Homo sapiens: one gene and its partner. The protein of the gene in region 1 binds, or shares a complex with, the protein of each later gene. Each region holds a gene or a part of one and is shown on either strand. Other genes may lie near its edges.

Region 1 (12,540 bases):
CCAGCACTGGAGTCAGGAGCCCAGAACACAGGTGAGCAGAGAGGTGAGAAGGAGGGGACTACGTTTCCCATCAGGCCTCAGGGCTGTCTTTCCGTATTCTCAAGGCCATTGCTCCCTGGGTGTCATGGGTATTGTAGTCCATAATGATCTCAGCTGGGCTCAGGTGAGAGAGAGCTTGAACCTATCAGGTGTCCAGCTCCTCTCAGGTGTCTGGGCTGTCTTTCTAGGCTGGTCTTCGGCCATTGCTTTTTTTTTTTTTTTTTGAGACTGAGGTCTTGCTCTGTCGCCAAGGTTAGAGGGCAGTGGCACGATCTCGGCTCACTACAACCTCTGTCTCCCGGGTTCAAGCGATTCTCCTGCCTCAGCCTCCCGAGTAGCTAGGATTACAGGCACCTGCCACCACGTCCGGCTGATTTTTATATTTTTGGTAGAGATGAGGTTTCACCATGTTGACCAAGCTGGTCTCGAACTCCTGACCAGCTGACAGGTGATCTGCCCATCTCAGCCTCCCAAAGTGCTGGGATTACAGGCGTGAGCCACCGCGCCTGGCCCAGCCATTGCTCTTTAAGCATCATGGGGATTGTAGTCCTGGATACTCTGTGCCAAGACAGTGCGGTGAGAGGTTTGCATCTCCCTTGTGTCCCCAGTTCACCTTGCAAGTTGGTTGCCTGCTGTTTTGTCTGAGCATCATGGGACGGTAGCTCAGAATATCCACAGCTGACTGCAAGTCTGAGAATGAGAGTAGCAAATTCCATCATCTTGTGGGGCTGTTTTGCCAGGCTGGTGCATTTATTATCACCCTCTGTGTCCCCACAGTGGCACACAGCTGGAGAGCAGGTAGTTGAGGAAGTTGAGAGGGCCCAGTTCTGAACCTCAAAATATCTCCTAAAGCACTTCAATTATGGACATGCCCACTCTACTATTTGTCACTAAGACATGCCAGTTTCTTTTTTTTTTTAATTATTATTATTATTTTTTTATTGATCATTCTTGGGTGTTTCTCGCAGAGGGGGATTTGGCAGGGTCATAGGACAATAGTGGAGGGAAGGTCAGCAGATAAACAAGTGAACAAAGGTCTCTGGTTTTCCTAGGCAGAGGACCCTGCGGCCTTCCGCAGTGTTTGTGTCCCTGGGTACTTGAGATTAGGGAGTGGTGATGACTCTTAACGAGCATGCTGCCTTCAAGCATCTGTTTAACAAAGCACATCTTGCACTGCCCTTAATCCATTTAACCCTGAGTGGACACAGCACATGTTTCAGAGAGCACAGGGTTGGGGGTAAGGTCATAGATCAACAGGATCCCAAGGCAGAAGAATTTTTCTTAGTACAGAACAAAATGAAAAGTCTCCCAGACATGCCAGTTTCTAAACATCTCCATTTCAACGTTCCTCCCAGGCACACTCTGGCTCCCCCACTTATCTCCAGCTCCCCCCGCGGCCCCCTGGGACCCGGGCCTCCATGGTTTTATTGGTAGGTATCCTGGAGTACCCTAAATCTACCGGAGCCCCCTCCCTTCCTTTCTTCTCTATGAGGAATGTCATCTCTTGGCCTAGGGTGCCTAGAGAACTGTAGATATTTCAAAGACCCTGGGTAGGTATTAGATTCATGTGGTGGCTGTAACAAAGCGCATGGCCGAAAACAACAGAAATGGATTATCTTGCGGTTCTGGAGGCCAGAGGCCTGGAGTCAAGGGATTGGCAGGGCTATACTTCCACTGAAGGTTCTAAGGAGGAGCTTTTATTGACTCTCTCTTAGCTTCTGGTGGTTGCCAGCAATTCCTGAGGTTCTGTGGTTTTTTTTATGGCCACATCTTTGCCTCCATCATCCCATGATGATCTTCCTTTGTGTTTTTGTTGCTGTCCATCTCCTCCTATTAGGACACCCCATGACATCGTCGTAACTTAACTTAAATCCGCAAAAACCTCTTTCTTTCTTTCTTTCTCTTTCTTTTTCTTTTCTTTTCTTTCTTTCTTTCTTTTTTTTTTTTTTTTTTGAGACGGGGTCTCTCTCTGTCGCCCAGGCTGGAGTGCAGTGGTGCGATCTCGGCTCACTGCAAGCTCTGCCTCCCGGGTTCATGCCATTCTCCTGCCTCAGCCTCCTGAATAGCTGGGACTACAGGCGCCCGCCACCACGCCCGGCTAATTTTTTTGTATTTTTTTCTTTGTTTTTTTCTTGAGACAGAGTCTCGCTCTGTCGCCCAGGCTGGATTGCAGTGGCGCGATCTCGGTTCACTGCAACCTTCGCCTCCCTGGTTCAAGCAATTCTCCTGCCTCAACCTCCTGAATAGCTGGGATTACAGGCACGTGCCACCATGCCTGGATAATTTTTGTATTTTTAGTAGAGACGGGGTTTCACCATGTTGGTCAGGCTGGTCTCGAACTCCTAACCTCGTGATCCTCCCGCCTCGGCCTCCCAAAGTGCTGGGATTACAGGCGTAAGCCACTGCGCCTGGCCCAACTTTTTTGTATTTTTAGTAGAGATGGGGTTTCACTGTGTTAGCCAGGATGGTCTCGATCTCCTGACCTTGTGATCTGCCCGCCTCGGCCTCCCAAAGTGCTGGGATTACAGGCGTGAGCCACCGCGACTGGCCTTCCTTCCTTTCTTTCTTTCTTTCCCCCTTCCCCTTCCCCTTCCCCTCCCCTCCTCGTTCTTTCCTTTCCTTTCCTTTTTCTCTCTCTTTCTTTCTTTCCTTCTTTCCTTCCTTTTTCTTTTTTTTTTTTGAGAAGGAGTTTCACTCTTGTTGCCCAGGCTGGAGTGCAATGGCGTGATCTCGGCTCACCGCAACCTCCCCTCCTGGGTTCAAGCGATTCTCCTGCCTCAGCTGCCCGAGTAGCTGGGATTACAGGCACCCACCACCACGCCCTGCTAATTTTGTATTTTTAGTAAAGACAGGGTTTCTCCATGTTGGTCAGGCTGGTCTTGAACTCCCGACCTCAGGTGATCTGCCTGCCTCGGCCTCCCAAAATGCTGGGATTACAGGCATGAGCCACTGCGCCTGGCCACCTAGCTAACTTTTTCTACTTTTTGTAGAGACAGGGTTTTGCCATGTTACCCAGGCTGTTTTTTGTTTTTTTTTAAATTAAAAAAAATTATTTATTTTCTTGAGACAGAGTCTCACTCTGTCACCCAGGCTGGAGTGCAGTGGTGCAATCATGGCTCACTGCAGCCTCAGTCTCCTGGGCCCAAGCGATACTCCCACCTCAGCCTCCCTAGTAGCTGAGACTACAGGCATGTACCACCATGCTCAGCTTATTTTATTTATTTATTTATTTATTTATTTATTTATTTGAGACGAAATCTCACTCTGTCACCCGGGCTGGAGTGCAATGGCACGATCTCGGCTCGCTGCAACCTCTGCCTCCCGGGTTCAAGTGATTCTTCTTCCTCAGCCTCCCAAGTAGCTGGGATTACAGGCGCCCGTCACTACGCCTGGCTAAGTTTTGTATTTTTAGTAGAGACAGGGTATCACCATGTTGGTCAGGCTGGTCTCGAACTCCTGACCTCAGGTGATCCACCCGCCTCGGCCTCCCAAAGTGTTGGGATTACAGGCATGAGCCACCGCACCCGGCCCTATTTTTTTATTTTTATTTTTTTTGCAGACACAAGGTCTCCCTATGTTGCCCAGACTGGTCTTTAACTCCTGGGCTCAAGTGATCTTCCCTCTTTGGCCTCCCAAAGCTTTGGGATTACAGGAGTGAGTCACTGTGCCCTGCACTTTGTTTTATTCTTAGTCATAAATAAAATGTCTAAATTTCTCCATTAATTATAATATTTGCCATGGCTGCTTGATCAAGAGCCCATTATTGATCTTTCTGAAGCCAAGAATGTGGAAGTTGGTCTACTGAAATTTGCTAATGCTTAGAAGGAAGCTGATAAGGAGAGGGGTCGCTAGGCTTGGTGGTTCATGCCTGTAATCCCAGGACTTCAGGAGGCCAAGGCAGGAGGATCATTTGAGATCAGGAGTTCAAGACTGGTCTGGGTGACATAGTGAGACCCCAGCCCTGAAAACAAACAAACAAACAACCTTAGCTGGCACCGGTGGCTGGCATCTGTTGTCCCACCTACTTGGGAGGCTGAGGTGGGAGGATCCTTTGAGCCTAAGAGTTCAAGGCTGCAGTGAGCCATGATCATGCCACTGCACCCCAGCCTGGGTGACAGACCTTGACTCAAAAAAAAAAAAAAAAAAAAAAAAAAAGGCCAGGCATGATATGATGGTGCATGCCTATAATCCCAGCACTTTGGGAGGCCGAGGCAGGAGGATTGCTTGAGCCCAGGAGTTTGAGATCAGCCTGGGCAACATGGCAAAACCCCATCGCTACCAAAACCAACAGCAACAAAAATTTTAAAACTACAAAAATTAGCCGGGCATGATGTGTGCGCCTGTGGTCCCAGCTACTCAGGAGACTGAAGTGGGAGGATTGCTTGAGCCCAGGAGGTTGAGCCTGCAGCGAACCATGATCGCACGACTGCACACCAGCTTGGGTGACAGAGCAAGACCCTATCTCTAAATAAATAAATAAATAAATAGTGCAGTACCTATCAGTAGAGACAGGGCGTGGCTCAGCACTGAGTTACAAGAATGACCAGCCTGTCCCCTTTGACCCCTGACTTTTTTCCTTCTCTTCAGCCGGGTCCTCCCCTGGAGTCAACTTTCCACCAAAGCTTGGAGACAGATGTAAGTTGTCACTGATCTAATCCTTGCTGAGTTCCCAGAGTTGGGGAGAGAATGTTCTAGATGATGGGAGGAGCGGCAGGGGAAGAGCCAGATCTGGACCATCAGTAGCTCCCGCTCTCCTTTCTCCAGACGCTGCTGACCAAGTTGTGCGGGCAGGACCGGCTTCTGCGGAGGCTGCAGGAGGAGATAGACCAGAAGCAGGAGGAGAAGGTGCGGGGCCCTGGGCCAAGGACAGGGCGCCTGGCCTCTCTGCCTGCCCTGAGCCCTTCCTGAATGCGGAAGTCAGGATGCTGACTGGACGTCCAGGACGTGAAAGGACATCTTTTCTTTCTTCTTGGGGCTAGGCATGGCTTCTGAAGTCTAACCACCTTCTGTCTTGGTGCAGGAGCAACTAGAAGCAGCTCTGGAGTTGACCCGGCAACAGCTGGGCCAAGCCACCAGGGAGGCTGGGGCTCCCGGGAGGGCCTGGGGTCGCCAGCGCCTCTTGCAGGACCGGCTGGTCAGTGTGAGGGCCACCCTCTGTCACTTGACTCAGGTGAGCACCTGGGAAGGGGCCTGCCCTCCTAGGAGGCCCCAGGACTATGCAAGTCGTTACGAAGGGGACCTGCCCCAGAGGGCTCATAGGAAGATCGTTCTTCAGAAGTCTACACTCCAAATTTTATTATTTTTTCTCTCTCCTCATTGTCTTGTAACCACTCTAATTTTTTTTTTTTTGGGGGGGACAGAGTCTTGCTCTGTCGCCCAGGCTGGAGTACAGTGGTGCCATCTCAGCTCACTGCAACCTCAGCCTCCTGAGTAACTGGGATTACAGGCATGTGCCACCACACCTGGCTAATTTTTGTATTTTTAGTAGAGATGGGGTTTTGCCATGTTGGCCAGGCTGGTCTCGAACTCCTAACCTCAGGTGATCAGCCTGCCTCAGCCTCCCAAAGTGCTGGGATTACAGGCATGAGCCACTGCGCCCGGCCTTAAGTAACTCTGAGAATTATTATATGTGATACGTGAAAATGAGTGAATGAATGAATGAATGAATGAATGAATATTTAACACTTAAGGTACTTGGTACTTGGTAAAGCAATACTTAAGTGTCAGCTATAATTATTATCTGTAAAATGGAGACAATAATAGTAACTACCTCATAGGAATTAAATGAGAGTTGAGAACAATGCCTAGCACATGATCAGTGCCCAATAAGTGTTAGCTGATATTATCATTGTTATTGTTGGTATTGGCAAGGAAGTTTCTGCTGCCCCAGGGTGAGTGGGTGCTGTGGTTATTTTTTTTGAGACGGATTCTTGCTCTGTTGCTCAGGCTGGAGTGCAGCGCCTGGATCCAGGCTCACTGCAACTTCTGTCTCCCTGGTTCAAGTGATCCTCCTGCCTCAGCCTCCCGAATACCTGGGATTACAGGCCCTCGCCACCATTCCTGGCTAATTTTTGTATTTTTAGTAGGGACGGGGTTTCACCATGTTGGCCAGGGTGGTCTCGAACTCCTGACCTCAAGTGATCCGCCCGCCTTGGCCTCCCAAATAGCTGGGATTAAAGGCCTGAACCACCGTGTCTGGCTGGGTGCTGTGGTCTTTTAACTGTCTAATGAAATTCATTAGATCTGTAGACTCTGCTACCTAGGAGAGAGCAGAAGTAATCCTGGGGATTCAGGGAATGCTGTTATTTGTCTACACTAGCAGTGTACTGGAATTGCAGGTTCCATACAGACTTTGGGGTTCCCAGTAGTCCAAGCAAAGAGGCCCATGGGAATTGTAGTCCATACGCCTGCAGGGCTCCAGGGACCAAACTCCCTTATCTCCTCCTTAGCTGACAAATGATGGGGTGGGGAAGGATCTGGTGGGAGAGGGACCTAACCTATGTCTCCCCCTTTATGCAACCTGAGGAGCGAGAGAGGGTTTGGGACACGTACAGTGGCCTGGAGCAGGAGCTGGGCACCTTAAGAGAGACGCTGGAGTACCTGCTGCACCTTGGTTCTCCCCAGGTAAATCGCTGCTTGGAGACCCCAAGACCCACCCCCAACTCCAAGTTCTGCCTGGAAATCCTTTTAGCATTTAATCTTCGCCCACAGAATCGAGGCCCCGCCCAGTTGACCCTTAGCCTCCTTTCTGTCCTTTCAATCTAAGCCCCTTATTTTAGTTAAGACCATGCCCTTTGGGGTTTTTTTTTAAATTCTCTCATTAAAATTTTAATTAAGCTTCAATTTTGAATGCCGTTTTCTCGAGCTGTTATCTAATTTCTGCTGTAAAGTTGTTTATTTGTTTGTTTTTAAGACAGTCTCACTCTGTCGCCCAGGCTGGAGTGCAGTAGCGCAATCTTGGCGCACTGCAACCTCTGCCTTCCAGGTTCAAGTGATTCTCCCACCTCAGCCTCCCAAGTAGCTAGGATTTCAGGCACATGCCACCATGCCCAGCTACTTTTTATATTTTTAGTAGAGACATGTTGGTCAGGCTGGTCTTGAACTCCTGACCTCAAGTGATCTGCCTGCCACGGCCTCCCAAAGTGCTGGGATTGCAAGCATGAGCCACTGCGCCAGACCTAATTTCTGCTGTAAAGTTGGCTATAATTTTACAACATTTTTTTTTGAGGGGGAGGGGGACAGAGTTTTACTCTTGTTGCCCGGGCTGGAGTGCAATGGCACGATCTCAGCTCACCACAACCTCTGCCTCCCGGGCTCAAGCGATTCACCCACCTCAGCCTCCTGAGTAACTGGGATTACAGGTGCCCGCCACCACGCCCAGCTAATTTTGTATTTTTAGTAGAGACGGGGTTTCTCTATGTTGGTCAGGCTGGTCTTGAATTCCCGACCTCAGGTGATCTGCCTGCCTCGGCCTCCCAAAGTGCTGGGATTACAGGCGTGAGCCACTGCGCCCGGCCTACAACATTCTTTTTAAAAAATGTATTGTGGGTACATAGCAGATGAATATATTTATGAAGTGCATAAGATATTTTGGTACAGGCATGCAATGTATAATAATCCCATCATGGAAAATGGGGTGTCCATCCCCTCAAGCATTTATCTTTTGTGTTACAAACAATCCATTATACTCTTTTATTTTTTATTTTTATTTTTGAGACAGTCTCGCTTTATTGCCCAGGCTGGAGTGCAGTAGCACAATCTTGGCTCACTGCAACCTCCGCCTCCCAGGTTCAAACGATTCTCCTCCCTCAGCCTCCCAAGTACCTGGGATTACAGATGACCACCACCATGCCCGGTTAATTTTTCTATTTTCGGTAGAGAGGGGGGTTTCACCATGTTGGTCAGGCTGGTCTCGAACTCCTGACCTCAGGTGATCCACCCACCTCGGCCTCCCAAAGTTCTGGGATTACCGGTGTGAGCCACTGTGCCTGGCCTACTCTTTTATTTTTATTTTATTTATTTTATTATATTTTTTGAGATAGAGTCTCGTTCTGTTGCCCAGACCGGAGTGCAATGGTGCAATCTCGGTTCACCGCAACATCCGCCTCCCAGGTTCAAGCAATTCTCCTGCCTCAGCCTCCCGAGTAGCTGGGATTACAGGCATGCACCACCATGTCTGGCTAATTTTGTAGTTTTATGAGAGACGGGGTTTCTCCATGTTGGTCCGGCTGGTCTTGAACTCCTGACCTCAGGTGATCCACCCGCCTCAGCTTCCCAAAGTGCTGAGATTACAGGCGTGAGCCACCGCACACAGCCCTTCTATTTTTTATTTTCTTTTTTTGTGTGTGTGAGACATAGTCTTGCTCTGTCGCCAGGCTGGAGTGCAGTGGCACAATCTCGACTCACTGCAACCTCCACCTCCCAGGCTCAAGCAATTCTCCTGCCGCAGCTTCCCCAGTAGCTGAGACTACAGGTGTGTGCCACCATGCCCAGCTAATTTTTGTATTTTTAGTAGAGATGGGGTTTCACCATGTTGGCCAGGATGGTCTAGATCTCTTGACCTCATGATCCACCCGCCTCGGCCTCCCAAAGTGCTGGGATTACAGGCGTGAGTCACGGCGCCTGGCCGCCCTCTTATTTATTTATGAGATGGAGTCTTGCTCTGTTGCCCAGGCTGGAGTGCAGTGGTGTGATCTCGGCTCACTGCAACCTCTGCCTCCCGGGTTCAAGTGATTCTCCTGCCTCAGCCTCTAGCTGGGACTACAGGCGTGTGCCACCACGCCTGGCTAATTTTTGTATTTTTAGTAGAGACGGGGTTTCACCATGTTGATTAGGGTGGTCTTGAACTCCTGACCTTCTGATCCGCCTGCCTCGGCCTCCCAAAGTGCTGGGATTATAGGCATGAGCTACTGCGCCCGGCCAATGCCTTTCGTTTTAATACCTACTTCAGATCCAGAGCTGCTCTCTCCCCTGGTTCTAAATCTCTCCTCTTGTTGAAGCCATGCTCTCACCAGCAAAACTCCAACCCTCAGCCTTTTTTCCATCTTGCAAGTTCATCTCTTGCATCCTGCATCCTGACTTTTGCTGTTAAATTTATCCTCTGGAGTTCCAGTTCTGAACCCATTCCTTTAGTGCAAGCTCTGCTCCTAAAATATAAACCTCATTGCTTAGCCTCAGACCTGCTTTTTCACTCTAAATCTAGCCATCAAGTTCTAAATCATGTATCTTTAAAAACATTGACACGGCCGGGCGTGTTGGCTCACGCCTGTAGTCCCAGCACTTTGGGAGGCCAAGGCAGGTGGATCACTTGAGGTCAGGAGTTGGAGACCAATCTGACGAACATGGTGAAACCCTGTCTCTACTAAAAATAGAAAAATTTGCTGGGTGTGCTGGTGCACGCCTGTAGTCCCAGCTACTCAGGAGGCTGAGGCAGGAGAATCGCTTGAACCCGGGAGGCGGAGGTTGCAGTGAGCCGAGATCGTGACACTGCACTCCAGCCTGGGTGATAGGGAGAGACTCCATCTTAAAAAACAACAACAACAACCCCAAAAAACAAAAAACCATTGATGCCTAGTTTTAAATGCATCTTCTCACTCTAAGCTGCTCCCACTAGATCTACAATCCAGACTTGGCAAGAACAGACCCATGCCAGCTGCAGTGGCTCACACCTGTAATCCCAGCACTTTAGGAGGATGAGGCAGGTGGATCACCTGAGCCCAGGAGTTTGAGGCTAGCCTGGGCAACATGGTGAAACTCTGTCTCTACTAAAAATAAAAGTGAAAAAATTAGCTGGGCCTGGTTGTGCACGCCTGTGGTCCCAGTTACTCAGGAGGCTGAGGTGGAAGGATCGCTTAAGCCCAAGAGTTCGAGGATGCAGTGAGCTATGATCAAGCCATTGCACGCCAGCCTGGGTGACAGAGGGAGGGACTGTCTCCAAAAACAAACAAAAAGAACAGACTCTCATATTCGTATGGTCACCTATTTATAATAGATGTAACACAGTAAAACAACATAGAAAGAAAAGACAGTTTTTTCTTTTTCTTTTTTTTTTTTTTGAGACAGTGTCTCGCTCTGTTGCACAGGCTGGAGTGCAGTGGCACGATCTCAGCTCACTGCAACCTCCACCTCCTGGGTTCAAGCAATTCTCCTGCCTCAGCCTCCCGAGTGGCTGGGATCACAGGCATGCACCACCACCCCCGGCTAATTTTTTTTTGTATTTTTAGTAGACACGAGGGTTCACCATGTTGGCCAGGCTGGTCTTGAACTTCTGACCTCTGGTGATCCACCCGCCTCGGCTTCCCAAAATGCTGGGATTACAGGTGTGAGCCACCACGCCTGGCCAAAAGACAGTTTTTTTTTTTTTTTTGAGACGGAGTCTCGCTCTGTCGCCCAGGCTGGAGTGCAGTGGCGGGATCTCGGCTCACTGCAAGCTCCGCCTCCCGGGTTCACGCCATTCTCCTGCCTCAGCCTCCCAAGTAGCTGGGACTACAGGTGCCCGCCACTACGCCCGGCTAATTTTTTGTATTTTTAGTAGAGACGGGGTTTCACCGTTTTAGCCGGGATGGTCTCGATCTCCTGACCTCGTGATCCGCCCGCCTCGGCCTCCCAAAGTGCTGGGATTACAGGCGTGAGCCACCGCGCCCAGCCAAGACAGTTTTTTTCAATTCAACTGGATAACCACATGGGAAAAAAAATAAATCCCAACTCCATAAATATAGCCCAGCTGATTTCAGACCTTTGCAGGGGCCTATTAGCTGAAACCCTCCTGCGTTTTCCCACCTTTAAGTAACAAATTCCTTTCCTCCCTGCAGGACAGAGTGTCTGCTCAGCAGCAGCTGTGGATGGTGGAAGACACGCTGGCAGGTCTGGGTGGCCCCCAGAAACCGCCCCCACACACTGAGCCTGACTCCCCATCTCCCGTGCTCCAGGGCGAGGAGTCCTCAGAGAGGGAGGTAAGACGCACATAATTCCTCCCCACCCCAAGCTTCATGTCCCACCTGTCCTTGACTCAGTCTATTCCCCACCCACCTCTTTAATTCTTCCTTGATCAGCTAACCCACCTGGTACAAGTGTCCTAACCTCTGGAAGCCTTTGTTTTCTTTTTTTTCGGGGGTTTTTTTGAGACGTAGTCTCACTCTGTCATCCAGGCTGGAGTCCAGTGGTGCAATCTTGGCTCACTGCAACCTCCACCTCCTGGGTTCAAGTGGTTCTCCTGCCTCAGCCTCCGAAGTAGCTGTGATTACAGGTGCCCACAACCAAGCCTGGCTAAGTTTTGTATTTTTAGTAGAAACGGAGTTTCACCTTGTTGGCCAGGCTGGTCATGTACTCCTGGCCTTGAGTAATCCGCCTGCCTCGGCCTCCCAAAGTGTTGGGATTACAGGCGTGAGCCACCTCGCCCAACCAGGATTTTTTTTTTAAGATGGGATCTCATTCTGTCGCCCAGGCTGGACTGCAGTGGTGTGATCATGGCTCACTGCAGCCTCGAATTCTTGGGCTCAAGCAATCCTCCTGCTTCAGCTTCCTGAGTAGCTGGGACCGCAGGCTCGTGCCATCATGCCTGGCTAATTTTTGGTTGTTTGTTTATTGTGGAGATGGAACCTCACTTTGCTGCCAAGTCTGGTCTTAAACTCCTGGCTTAAAATGATCCTCCAGTCTCAGTATTCCAAAACGCCAGGATTACAGGAGTGAGGCACCGCACCCAGCCCTAATATGATTATATATATAATGCACTTAGACACCAGGCACTGTTCTAAGTGCCACATATATATGGACTCAATCCTAATATCAAAAAGTAAAATGTTAATGAGCCAGGCACAGTGGTGCACACCTGTAATCCCAGCTACTTGGGAGACTGAGGCAGGAGAATCGCTTGAACCAGGGAGGCAGAGGTTGCAGTAAGCTGAACCAAGATTGCACCACTGTACTCCAGCCTGGCTGAAAGAGCGAGACTGTGTCTCAAATAAAATAAAATATGGCTCAGAGAGGTAAAGCAGCTTGCCGAAGGTCACACAGCTAATAAATGGCACAGTTGGGATTTGAAGCCAGGACATCTGGCTCCTGGTTTACAGTTTTTTTGTTTTTTTGGAGACAGGGTCTTGCTCTGTCACCCAGGCTGGAGTGCAGTGGTGCCATCACAGCTCACTGGAACCTCCATCTCTGGGGCTTAAGTGATTCTCTCACCTCAGCTTCCCAAGTAGCTAGGACTACAGGTGTCTGCCACCATGCCCGGCGAATTCTTTAACTTTTTTGTAGAGACGGGGTCTCCCTATGTTGCCTAGGCTGGTCTTGACCTCCTGGTCTCAAGTGATCCTCCCATCTCGGCCTCCTAAAATGCTGGGATTACAGACGTGAACCCACTGTGCCCAGCCTAAAACGTTTGTTTTGTTTTGCTTTGTTTTTTGAGATGGAGTCTCTCTCTGTTGCTCAGGCTGGAGTGCAAGTGGCTCGATCTTGGCTCACTGCAAGCTCTACCTCCCGGGTTCACACCATTCTCCTGCCTCA
Region 2 (12,540 bases), on another chromosome or scaffold:
CATACTTGCTGCAATCAGATGCTTGGCATATTAAGCGTTGGAATTCTCTCTGCCTGCCCTGCCTAGTGAGCGGTAGGGAGGAACTCAGGCTCAGCCAATCGCCGAGCTGTAGATACATTCCCAGGCTCCCTGCCGGACCCCACAACATCCAGCCTTTTTTTTGTTTTTTCTTTTTTTTCTTTTTTCTTTTTTTTTTTTTTGAGACGGAGTCTTGCTCTGTCGCCCAGGCTGGAGTACAGTGGCGCGATCTCAGCTCACTGCAACCTCCGCCTCCCGGGTTCACGCCATTCTCCTGCCTCAGCTTCCCGAGTAGCTGGGACTACTGGCGCCCGCCACTACGCCCAGCCAATTTTTTTGTATTTTTAGTGGAGACGGGGTTTCACCGTGTTAGCCAGAATCGATCTCCTGACCTCGTGATCCACCCGTCTCGGCCTCCCAAAGTGCTGGGATTACAGGCGTGAGCCACCTCGCCTGGCCTTTTTTTTTTTTTTTTAAGAGACAGAGTCTCAGTCGGTCGCCCAGCCCGGAGTGCAATGGCGCGATCTCGGCTCAGCAACCTCCGCCTCCCAGGTTCTAGCGATTCTCCTGCATTAGCCTCCTGAGTAGTTGGGATTACAGGCGCGTGCCACAACGCCCGGCTAATTTTTTTGTATTTTCAGTAGAGATAGGGTTTCACCATGTTGGCCAGGCTGGTCTCGAACTCCTGACCTCAAGTAATACACCCGCCTCGGCCTCCCAAAGTGCCGGGATTACAGGCGTGAGCCACCACGCCTGGACATTTTTTTTTTTTTTTTTTTTTTACAGGGTCTCATTCTGTGGCCCAGGCTGGAGTGCAGTGGCGATCCTGGCTCACTGCAACCTCTGCTGCCTGGCTCAAGTGATCCTCCTGTCAGCCTCTCGAGTAGCTGGGACTACAGGCGCGGTGCGGGCTAATTTTTTTTTTTTTTTTTTTTTTGTAGAAACGGGGTTTTGCCGTGATCCCCAGGCGGGTCTGGAACTCCGGAGCTCAGGTAATTCGCTCGCCTCGGCCTGCCAAAGTGCCGGGATTATAGGCGTGAGCCACCATTCCCTGCCCACCCGACCTTTTTGTAATTCGGCTTCCTAGCAGCGTACAGAAGCCCCGCGCTAGGGTACAGACAGGTCACGTGACACCACCTCCTCACGTGACGCAGACTCTGGAGCGGGGGGAGGGCGGTGCTCCAGCTGCATTGCGTCATCACGTCGCGCGGCCGCAGGGGCCAGACCCGGACGGCTCCAGAGCCTCCAGAGCCTCCGGGTCTGGGCGGCGCTTCGGCTCCTCCCGAGCCGCCTGCTAGCCCCGCGCCGCACTCCATCCCCACAGGCTGGGGACGGGCCCGGTGCGGCTGTGTGGGTTCGGGAGCGGAGGTGAGTTGCGCGGAAGTGATGGCAGTCAGCCCTTCCCTTCCTGTCCGTCAACTCCGGGTTATGGCCCTACCCCCCATCCTTGGTCTCCCTGCAAGGCGGAATGGGAGACATGCCCAACAGAGGAGGAAGGCTGGCAGTGGGGTGGGGCATCTGGCCTCGGTCACCCTCTCAACTCTCCCCCTGAACTGCCCCTCTCCGATACCTCCACCTGGCGGTGGCGGCCATATGCCTGGTGGTATTAGGAGGAAGGACTTCGTTTCCTTCTCTAGAATTTAGTCTTTCCCGAGTTTACTACCCATTCCCTGCCCCGAATCTCCCGAAGTGGAATCCCTCCATTCAGATGTTAACGAAAGTTCTAGAAAATAGGTCACTTCAGAAGGGTGAGGATGAAGGATATGCTGAGACTTGGAGTGTTGAGGCAGGAATCCCCTAGAAGGAAGACCACTCTGCACCGGGGTACTGTCATTTTGACACGGAAACGATAAAAGACCCCCCGGGCTGTCTTCATAGTAAATGGACATTTGTTCTAGACCTTTTTACACCCCTAGAGTTGCAACTAAGTTGACTTAAGTCTTTTTGAAAAACATATGCTTTGATGAATCACCCGCTTTTCTGTAAAATGGGTCTTGCAGAGTTGTTGGAGGAATTATCTATAGTGCTTATAGAGTAAAATGCCAACTACAAACAGAAGTAGATGAGAATTTAGGATCTCATTTTTCCTGTTGAAAGATTAATTGTGACTTGTGGACTTTTGGAGACCACAGTTTGATTTCCTTCCCCCCGGATCATTTCAGAAAGTTTTGGATTCCAATATCGATTCTTTAACAGTAATGGACATTCACAGATGTAGAGTAGGAATACCCTCTTGTTGAAGAGCTTCAATATCTTAAGCAAGTGTAAGTCCATCGATAACTTGCGTGGTTTCCATTATTCAGTGTAGGTAATGGGTCCTCAATTGAAGTTTCTTTTTTTTTTTTTTTTTTTGAGACAGAGTCTCGCTCTGTTGCCCAGGCTGGAGTGCAGTGGTGTGATCTCGGCTCACTGCAACCTCCACCTCCTGGGTTCAAGTGATTCTCGGGCCTCAGCCTTCTTGGTAGCTAGGATTATAGGCGCGCATCACCACGCCTGGCTATTTTTTGTATTTTTAGTAGAGACTAGGTTTCACCATGTTGGCCAGGCTGCTCTCAAACTCCTGACCTCAACTGATCACCCACCTCAGCCTCCTAAAGTGCTGGGATTACAGGAGTGAGCTGTTGGGCCCGGCCTGAAGTTTCATTTTAAGAAGAAATCCAGATATGTTTGGAAGTCATCAGACATATCATTTGGATACTTCTTTAGAAAAAAGTTTATTTTTACTGAGTGGCCTTTCTTGCTCTAAGTTGAAGTTGAATACACACTTTTTCTTACATTAAATTCTAAACATTTATTGTGCAACTTCTAGGATAGAAAGCATACATATAAAGCAGGATCCTCTTTTTATGTATGCTCTAAATACTTATCTACTTAAGGACATTAAATAGTAATAATATAACACCTTTAAGAAATTTTATATTTTCGGTTTATCATTTGAGACAAGAACCTTGTCAAGATTTACAAGACATATATTGTTTATCTCTACTTACATTTCAGCATTGATCATATTAAATGTCAAGTGGTAGGGACACTCCGTGATAGAGGAATTCAGAGGAAGAAGAGAGAGCTTTTACATGGACTAGATAGTGGCTAGTGGTTGGTGGTGATGCCAGGCATAGGAGTGCCCTCAACTTGTGTATGTTTGGGTCTGAGGAAGCCTCTTAGGTTCTTAATTTGTAAAGCTAATTAAATATGTTCAGTTGCCCTAGTTCTTTGAATATGCTCATTGTTTTTTTTTCCCTCTTGTAGTTGCAGAATCCAAGGACCCATTTTGTTCTTTCTCCGCACTGCTTTATGGGAGGCATTATGGCCCCCAAAGACATAATGACAAATACTCATGCTAAATCCATCCTCAATTCAATGAACTCCCTCAGGAAGAGCAATACCCTCTGTGATGTGACATTGAGAGTAGAGCAGAAAGACTTCCCTGCCCATCGGATTGTGCTGGCTGCCTGTAGTGATTACTTCTGTGCCATGTTCACTAGTGAGGTAAGTGGTAAATTAGCCCCACACAAATGAAACCCGTGGAACTCTAGTTGTCTAATTTCACTGAATAAAATAGTGGAAGTTTGATATAATTTTGAATTTTTACAGTGTGATGTTTTGGCAGATTCTGGATAAGATCTACCACTTAGATGACTATGCCTTAGTTTCCTCATCTTTAAGTTAGGGATAATAGTAATATGTAACACATGGTTATTAAGGTTGTTGTGAAGATTATTTTATGAAATAACATAGGAAGTGCTTAGAATAGTGTAATATGTAGTAAAACACACATGTCAGCTATTGGATTTTACTATTTCTTAAATTTGTCTTCCAATTTTTCTCCTTTTTTTGTTTTTAATTTTATTTATTTATTTGTAGAGACAGGGTCTCACTATGTTGCCCACGCTGGTCTTGAACTCCTGGGCTCAAGCAATCCTCCTGCCTTGGCCTCCCAGAGTGGCCACACCTGGCATTACAGGTGTGAGCCACGGCATCCAGCCTTTTTTCCTTCTAAAGTTTAAAAATTTTTAAGTGAATACCAGAGGGATAAGGAGGAAGGAAGGAGAGAGGAGTAGGATTCAAACCACATCCCACTCCTCCTAACAATATGTGAAGAAAATCAGTGTAAATTTTAGGATAACTTCAAATGAAAGGAAGAAGAGTTTTTAATGAATAGCTGTACAGGCGTTGAGTGTATAACCTGAGAAAGGATGTTAACTCATAAGCACTTAACAAAGGGAATTAGGAAAAGGTTGGCTTGAGAGAATACAGGTAGTGCTCACAAAGTATTAAGAAACACTACTTAGTAATTGCCTGACAAAATACTTGAAATGTATAGTAAGGCTGCTGAATATATTGTGTTGAATATTCTTAGAAAGCTGAACAGAAAATAACATTGCAAATCTTTGTTTTTCAAGATCCCAAGTCTCATTTTAAGAGCAGATTTAAATAAATTATCTTGATTTATTTTTTCAAAGCTCAGTTGTGGGTGCATCACTGTTTATTATATAATTTACACTTACATGTATGCCTGAAATATTTCATTATGAAAACACTGTTTTAAAAGTCTTTTTAAGCACAAGTTTTTTGTTTGTTTTTTGTTTTTTTTTTAGTTAGTTCTATCATCTTAGTGTAGATATTGCTGCTGAATCAGAATGGGAGAGGCGTATTCTGTGATGGTAATAACTACCTTTTATGGGCCAGGTACTGTGCTAGTAATTGTTGTGCATATCTGACTCACCCTAGGGGTAGGTATTACCATCTCATTTTACAAATGAAGGAATAGGGTTTCAGATATTAAATCACTTGCCCAAAGTCCCATGGCTTGTAAGTGCTAGAGGTGGGATTTCATTTTATATTTTCCAACTCTAAAGCCCAAACAGTTTGTAACTCTTGTGCCGCCTTAGCCTCCGAAGTATGAATTTTATATACTACAATCTAATTTTAAAACTGGTATAGTTAAAAATACTATGAGCCAATGCTCAGTCACATGGCTAGTAGGGAAAACAGGAACCTGACAGGTCATTCCAACTAATTCAGGCTAATTTTTAAATAAACTTGTGTGATATACCAAGGCAGATCCCTGTCCTATACTGTTCTCCATGAGATATACCCAAGATCATCAGAAGCATTTGGAATTTAACTGGGTAAAGAGAGTGTCACCCAGCAGCTGCTGAGCAAGAAATGAACTAGAACGGCTGATTGCTAATTATATGTTGTGCATCCTGTTTTTTGTCAGCTTGAAAATAGTGTCTTTACTCTTTTGTTATTTGGAAATGAATTCTTTTTTTCTCATCAGTGATGATTTCTTTCTTTAAAAACTGACATCAGGCAAGGAAATGCTAGATGGTTTTGTCTTTATTTTTGAGAGTAATTGTTCAAAGGAGAGAGTCCAGAGACCTGGATTCTAGGCTTAGTTCTCTTAGCAATTCTGTATAAACCCTGGGAACCATCTAACTTCACTGGGTTGATCTGTAAAATAAAGTAGTTGAACTAGATGGTTTCCTTGTTCTCTTCAGCTATGAAATGCTCCTCAAATGTCATCTGATTGAAAGATCACAAAGACTGAGGCAGGAGGACCTGGGTTTTGTCTCTCTCTCTCTCTCTTTTTTTTTTCCTGAAATACTTTAATAAGAATGATATCTGTCTCTTACTAGCTAAGTGACTGGTTAAGTCTTGGATCTTCAGCTGGGCGTGGTGGCTCACGCCTGTAATCCCAGCACTTTGGGAGGCCGAAGCAGGTGGATCACGAGGTCAGGAGATCAAGACCATCCTGGCTAACACGGTGAAACCCCGTCTCTACTAAAAATACAAAAAATTAGCCGTGCGTGGTGGCGGGCGCCTGTAGTCCCAGCCACTCGGGAGGCTGAGGCAGGAGAATGGCGTGAACCCGGGAGGCGGAGCTGGCAGTGAGCCCAGATCACGCCACTGCACTCCAGCCTGGGTGACAGAGCGAGACTCTGTCTCAAAAAAAAAAAAAAGTCTTGGATCTTCTTTGATCTTTAGACCCTTTATCGCTCTCTCTTTTTTTTTTTTTCCTTGACGCCTGGCTAATTTTTTGTATTTTTAGTGGAGACGGGGTTTCACCATGTTAGCCAGGATGGTCTCGATATCCTGACCTTGTGATCCACCCACCTCGGCCTCCCAAAGTGCTGGGATTACAGGCTTGAGCCATGTGCCCGGCCCCCCTTTATCTCTTAGATAGTAATAATATCAGACCTAACTACCTTACCAGGTTGCTGTGAGAATCAGATGAAATAGTAGTAAATGAGAAGCATGCTGAAAAATTCTAAAGCAAAATATAACTGTAAAATGTATAATTGCTCTAAGTTCTTACATAGTGAAATTGTTTCCATATTTAAACTATTTGATGGAAATGTAGTTTATTGAATGAGAAATTTCTGGAATACATGTACTTACATATTTCAGTACCATAATTATTAAATGCATTTAATGTGTTGGGATAGTAATTGTTTATGAATATTAGTACTGTATTAAATGTTAATAAAACCTAATATGTTTTTTCAAAATAATGTGCTAGTGACTTTTTTAGTGTTAGGGATTGATTTTGTTCTTGGCTTTGGTAGAGAGTGCTTTTTGGTTATTCTCTGGCTGATGGAGAAATAAAAAACGTTAAAGCCATTTAGTTAATAATGGAGATGCACCAGAGTTTTTTAAGTAAAATGAATTTCTAAACTAAGATTAAGATCTAGTAAAATTTTCATAAGGTATTTTCAGATAGTTTCCTGTAAAATTGAAGATTTCTTCTCTTAGCTAAACAGTTTTCTATGATTATCTGGCCTCATCAATACTCATAGCTTCAAGAAGATATACTACTAACAATTTAGACTAAATATACTGCTAACAATTCAGTTAGTCTAACCCAATATTTTGAAAAAGTAACAAATAATTTATTTGTATTCAGATGATGTTACATAAGAAAGTCCCTTAGGATGACCTGCATGTTCTTTTTCGTCATTACTAAATGCAGTCTAAGGGCCGGGCATGGTGGCTCACGCCTGTAATCCCAGCATTTTGAGAGGCTGAGGTGGGCAGATCACTTGAGGTCAGGAGTTCAAGACCAGCCTGGCCAACATGGTGAAACCCCATCTCTACTAAAAACACAAAAATTAGCCAGGCATGGTGGCATGTGCCTGTAGTCCCAGCTACTCAGGCGGCTGAGGCAGGAGAATCGCTTGAACCTGGGAGGTGGAGCTTGAAGTGAGCCAAGATTACGCCACTGCACTCCAGCCTGGGCAACAGAGCAAGACTGTGTCAAAAAAAAAAAAAAAAATTAGCTGGTTGTAGTGGTGTACTCCTGTAATCCCAGCTACTTGGGAGGCTGAGGCACGAGAAACACTTGAACCTGGGAGGCAGAGGTTGCAGTGAGCTGAGATCACACCACTGCACTCCAGCCTGGGGAACAGAGCAAGACCCTATCTCAACAAAGGGGAAAAAAAAGTAGTCTAAGGACAGATGATAGGAACTAGGTAGTCCTGGAGAGACTGGAGTTATAACCCACAGGCTCCTCTACGAACATGAAATTTCTTTGAAATATTGTGTCTTATCTTAAAAGTTCACGGACCAGTGTTATGTTCATGGAACTTTTGCATTCTATTCTGTAAATACATCTGTATTTTAATATGAAATAGATTTTTAAAGTTATTCACTGGCAAAATTACTATTCCAGGAAGGTGTTACCTATTACTTATTCCTGGCGTATAGATAACTACCTACTTCATTTGGAAAGCTACAGATAATGTGCCATATTTGCTTTATTAAAATCCAACAAAATTGGCCGGGCGCGGTGGCTCACGCCTGTAATCCCAGCACTTTGGGAGGCTGAGGCAGGCGGATCACGAGGTGAGGAGATCGAGACCATCCTGGCTAACACGGTGAAACCCCGTCTCTACTAAAAGTACAAAAAATTAGCCGGGCGTGGTGGCGGGCGCCTGTAGTCCAAACTACTCGGGAGGCTGAGCCAGGAGAATGGCATGAACCCAGGAGGTGGAGCTTGCAGTGAGCCGAGATGGCACCACTGCACTCCAGCCTGGGAAACAGTGCAAGATTCCGTCTCAAAAAAAAAAAAAAAAAAAAAAAAATCCAACAAAATAGAGCATAATTTTATTTTTTTATTTTCTTTCTTTTTTATTTTTTTGAAATGGAGTCTCACTCTGGTGCCCAGGCTGGAGTGGAGTGGCACAATCTTGGCTCTCTGCAACCTTCGCCTCCTGGGTTGAAGCAATTCTCCTGCCTCAGCCTCCTGAGTAGCTGGGACTACAGGCATGTGCCACCATGCCCAACTAATTTTTGTATTTCTAGTGGAGACGGGGTTTCACTGTGTTGGCCAGGCTGGTCTTGAATTCCTGACCTCAGGTGATTTGCCTGCCTTAGCCTCTCAAAGTGCTGGGATTACAGGCATGAGCCACCACGCCTGGCCTGTAATTTTTAAAGATAAATGTTCAATTAATATTATTAACATCTCTAAGCTCTTAGATATGAGATTCTGCCTTTATCTTGTGGAATTATAACCATCATTCTTTTATACCTTTTGAATTTTCAGCTCTCAGAGAAGGGGAAACCTTATGTTGACATCCAAGGTTTGACTGCCTCTACCATGGAAATTTTATTGGACTTTGTGTACACAGAAACAGTACATGTGACAGTGGAGAATGTACAAGAACTGCTTCCTGCAGCCTGTCTGCTTCAGTTGAAAGGTACAGACATTAAAACTTGCTATTGTTTATGTCAAAATAGCCCTGGAAAGGTTGAAAATTAATAGTGTAAACTTAATCATGAACATTTTGGAGACAAACTATGGATGTTCATGTTTGCTGGCCATGGCTTTTGTCTCATTGAGCAATAAGAGATCAGATGTCAATAGCACTATAAAGGAACTTCTCCAGATATGAGTATTTGGCTCTATAAAAGAGAGCATTTGCACCTTTTCTGTTTTAAAAAAAAAATGGAGGAAGGAGAAATTATGTGTTTTCTTACATACATGTATGTAACACACCTATAAGGAAATATAATAAAAAAGTGATACTATACATAGCCTACATGGATACTCTTTATCTATCTGGCCATTAAGTGGTAGTATTTCATTAAGATACATGAAATTTAAATTGATGCACAAAATATTAAAGTATGATATTTTCACAGGATTACAGGTGGTTTGTTTTCCCTTACAATTCCCAGGTTTTTTGTTTTGTTTTTGAGACAGAGTCTCACTCTGTCACCCAGATTAGAGCACAGTGGTGCAATCACAGCTCACTGTATCCTTGAATTCTTGGGCTCAAGCAATTCTCACACCTCAGCCTCCTGAGTAGCTGGGACCACAGGTGCATGCCACCACACCCAGCTAATTAAAACAAAATTTTTTTGTGTGGAGATGAGTTCTCTCTATGTTGCTCAGGCTGGTCTCAAGCTCGTGGGCTCGAGTGATCCTCCCACCTTGCCTCCCAGAATGCTGGAATTATAGGCACGAGCCACCGTTCCTGGTCCCCAGTTTTTCTTTTTTAACATTCAGTTATGTTTTCAGTTTTTATATATACATAATTGACACACTTTTAGTTTTTAATACATGATTTAAACAGTGTGAAGCTTTTGCATTAGTGCATAGCCATAACATTAAAATACTCTGAACTTTTCAATTAGATAAATATGAGATTTGTTATTACTATCTTCTCCTTTTCTTTCACTCTAGTCTTTTAGTAAGTTTTCATGTAGAGTAGAAAATGGATACATTATGCTGAATTCGCAATTGGTTTTATAGTTTGATTCCCAAGAGTTTTATAGGCATTTTTGTTGAATTGTGCCAGGTCTCTGGATGTGATTCATCTTGCAATACTCATTTTAAAGATTAAGCAGAGACAGGTGTAAAGGTCTTGCTGAAAGTGGCACAGTACATAAGCCAGAAATAGAGTTTAAGTTCCTTAAGCATAGAATTTCTAATCTGTTTCTTAGGTGTTGAAACAAGGGTTCATCTGATAACATGTAGAGAAGATGCTGAGATACAAGAATATATCCTAGATCACACCTGTCCAACTATTCTAAAGTGTTTGCTGCCTGTGTCTGTCCTAGGTGTGAAACAAGCCTGCTGTGAGTTCTTAGAAAGTCAGTTGGACCCTTCTAATTGCCTGGGTATTAGGGATTTTGCTGAAACCCACAATTGTGTTGACCTGATGCAAGCAGCTGAGGTTTTTAGCCAGAAGCATTTTCCTGAAGTGGTACAGCATGAAGAGTTCATTCTTCTGAGTCAAGGAGAGGTGGAAAAGCTAATCAAGTGCGACGAAATTCAGGTACGGATTTGTCTTGATGTTATGGTTTCTTCAAGATTGGGCAATTACAAAACTTGCAAATAGGATGCAGTTACTTACCATCAGGGCTTCATAATTAAGTGTGCATTTTGGCTCAAAGATTTCATTAACCCCTCCTGTACCAAATTTATTTGCATTTTTATGGAGAGGGAGTTTGCCACTTTCTTCAATTAGATATATGATCCCAGTGGGTAAGAATCACTATTCAACAGAGTATAGAATAAGCAGAAATTGGAAGTAAAGTAGGTATCTGTAGACCACTTCTCTATTACCCGTTCACTCATTTCACAAACATTTATTGAGAATATCTACTATGTAGCACTTAACTATGCCAGGTGCTACAGATCCCCAAGTGGGTAAATATAGTTCTTGCTTTCAGAAAATTCACAACCTGCTAGTAGAGACAGAGATATAGACAAAAAAAATGTTATAAAGAGGATCATGAGAATAGTGAGCCTATACAAAGTAAGGACATTACATAGAAGAAAGAAGAATAAACCTTTGCTCAGGAGTGGATCAGAAATGAAGAGACAAAAGTTTGGAAGTGAGGATCTACAGAAGCAGGAGCCAAATCATAACTGTCTTGTGAGGATGCAGCGGTTGGAAGGGAGGGACACATGAACTGGATGTTAAAGGAATAGTAGGCCAGGTGCAGTGGCCTATGCCTGTAATCCCAGCACTTTGGGAGGCTGAGGCAGAACTGCTTGTGTCCAGGAGTTTGATACTAGCCTGGGCAACATGGCAAAACCCTGTCTCTACAAAAAAATAAAATTAGCCTGGCATGGTGGTGAGCACCTGTGGTCCCAGCTACTTGAGAGGCTGAGGTGGGAGGATCTCTGGAGCCTGGGAGTTTGAGGCTGCAGTGAGCCATGATCGCACCACTGCACTCTAGCCTAGGCAACAGAGGGAGACCCTGTCTCTTGCGGGGGAAGAAGGAATAATACTTCACCTACCAGGGGGATACTACCTGTGCCAGGCAGGCATTCAGTGACTTAACCTACACAGAAGAAAAGTCAATCCTAATTCTAAATCAGAGTACCAGTAGCAGAGTTTTATTGCATATAGGTTTGTAGTTAGGCTGAGAATTGGAGTGAGAAGTCCAATATAGTTATTAGATGTCTTTGAAGCCCATAGTATTGATCTCCAGTGGTCCAATTCTTTAATTTTTTTTTTTTTTCTTCTGAGATGGTCTCACTCTGTCACCCAGGCTGGAGTGCAGTGATGCAATTATGGCTCACTGCAGCCTGGATGTCTGAGCTCAAGCAGCTCTCCCACCTCATCCTCCTGTGTAGCTGGAACTGCACATCACCACACCGGGCTAATTTTTTAAAATTTTTGTTGAGATGGGGTCTCGCTGTGTTGCCCAGGCTGGTCTTGAACTGCTAGGCTCAAGCAATGCTAGGCTCAGGCAATACCATTTAAAGAAAGCCTCTAATATACTTCCATAAACTAAATGATTACTCTCTCCTGATTTATTTTGTTAAAACTAGGATATTTGTGTAATATAATAACAGGTCTTAAGTATACTTCTTCCAGGCTGGAGTGCAGTGGTGTGATCTCAGCTCACTGTAACCTTCACCTTCTGGGTTCAAGTGATTCTCCTGCCTCGGCCTCCCAGGTAGCTGGGACTACAGGCGCCCACCACTACACCAGCTAATTTTTGTATTTTTAGCAGAGACGGAGTTTCACTATTGTGGCCAGGCTGCTCTGGAACTCCTGACATCAGCCACTTCAGCCTCCTAAAATGCTGAGATTATAAGTGTGAGCCACGGCTCCTGGCCTTAAGTATATTTCTTATCAAATTTTAGCCAAGTGTTTCTTTACACCTTTCTCTAGTGACTGTTCTGAGGGAAAATGGATTAGAGCACATTGGTCACATTGGTTCCAACTGTAGAGGAATTATTTTCCAGCCTGACATACTGGGCTCTGTATCAGCCCAGAGAAGCTGCTGTTGCAAATGCTATTGAGTCAAGAATTTGCTAAAATCTTAGTTCTCAGCCTCTTAGTGTAGGACATTGTATCCTTGTGCTGAAGTGGCAGGCATAGCCAAAAAACATATTCATCAGACTTGGAAACTGGCAATTCACTAGAATATCTTGATTTTTCTTGATTTGTACACATATTGGAAAATACAATGAATAGAATGAGCACTACAGATTTGACGTTCACTACATATAATAGCTAATACTTATTCAGCATTTACTGTTGGTTCACTTAC

The links.
Region 2: the proteins of PLEKHA4 (region 1) and KLHL12 are in contact, whole or in part, in a crystal structure (PDB 8OIO), measured with the Homo sapiens proteins. Residues at the interface, in NP_065955.2 of Homo sapiens: Pro177, Gly178, Gly179, Pro180; in NP_067646.1 of Homo sapiens: Phe289, Arg320, Glu417, Tyr434, Ile439, Phe481, His486, Cys511, Tyr512, Tyr528, Leu533, Cys558.

Annotation. Positions count from the first base shown.
Region 1 is NC_000019.10:48,846,351-48,858,890, reverse strand, and holds part of PLEKHA4 (pleckstrin homology domain-containing family A member 4), read left to right. Parts: coding exon 1-31; coding exon of another isoform or gene 32-43; intron 44-1,394; coding exon 1,395-1,469; intron 1,470-4,626; coding exon 4,627-4,674; intron 4,675-4,803; coding exon 4,804-4,884; intron 4,885-5,059; coding exon 5,060-5,209; intron 5,210-6,564; coding exon 6,565-6,663; intron 6,664-10,850; coding exon 10,851-10,991; intron 10,992-12,540. UniProt on the Homo sapiens protein: Binds specifically to phosphatidylinositol 3-phosphate (PtdIns3P), but not to other phosphoinositides.
Region 2 is NC_000001.11:202,915,935-202,928,474, reverse strand, and holds the start of KLHL12 (kelch-like protein 12), read left to right. Parts: upstream 1-1,240; 5' UTR 1,241-1,386; intron 1,387-3,267; coding exon of another isoform or gene 3,268-3,312; coding exon 3,313-3,507; intron 3,508-8,566; coding exon 8,567-8,720; intron 8,721-10,086; coding exon 10,087-10,304; intron 10,305-12,540. UniProt on the Homo sapiens protein: Substrate-specific adapter of a BCR (BTB-CUL3-RBX1) E3 ubiquitin ligase complex that acts as a negative regulator of Wnt signaling pathway and ER-Golgi transport.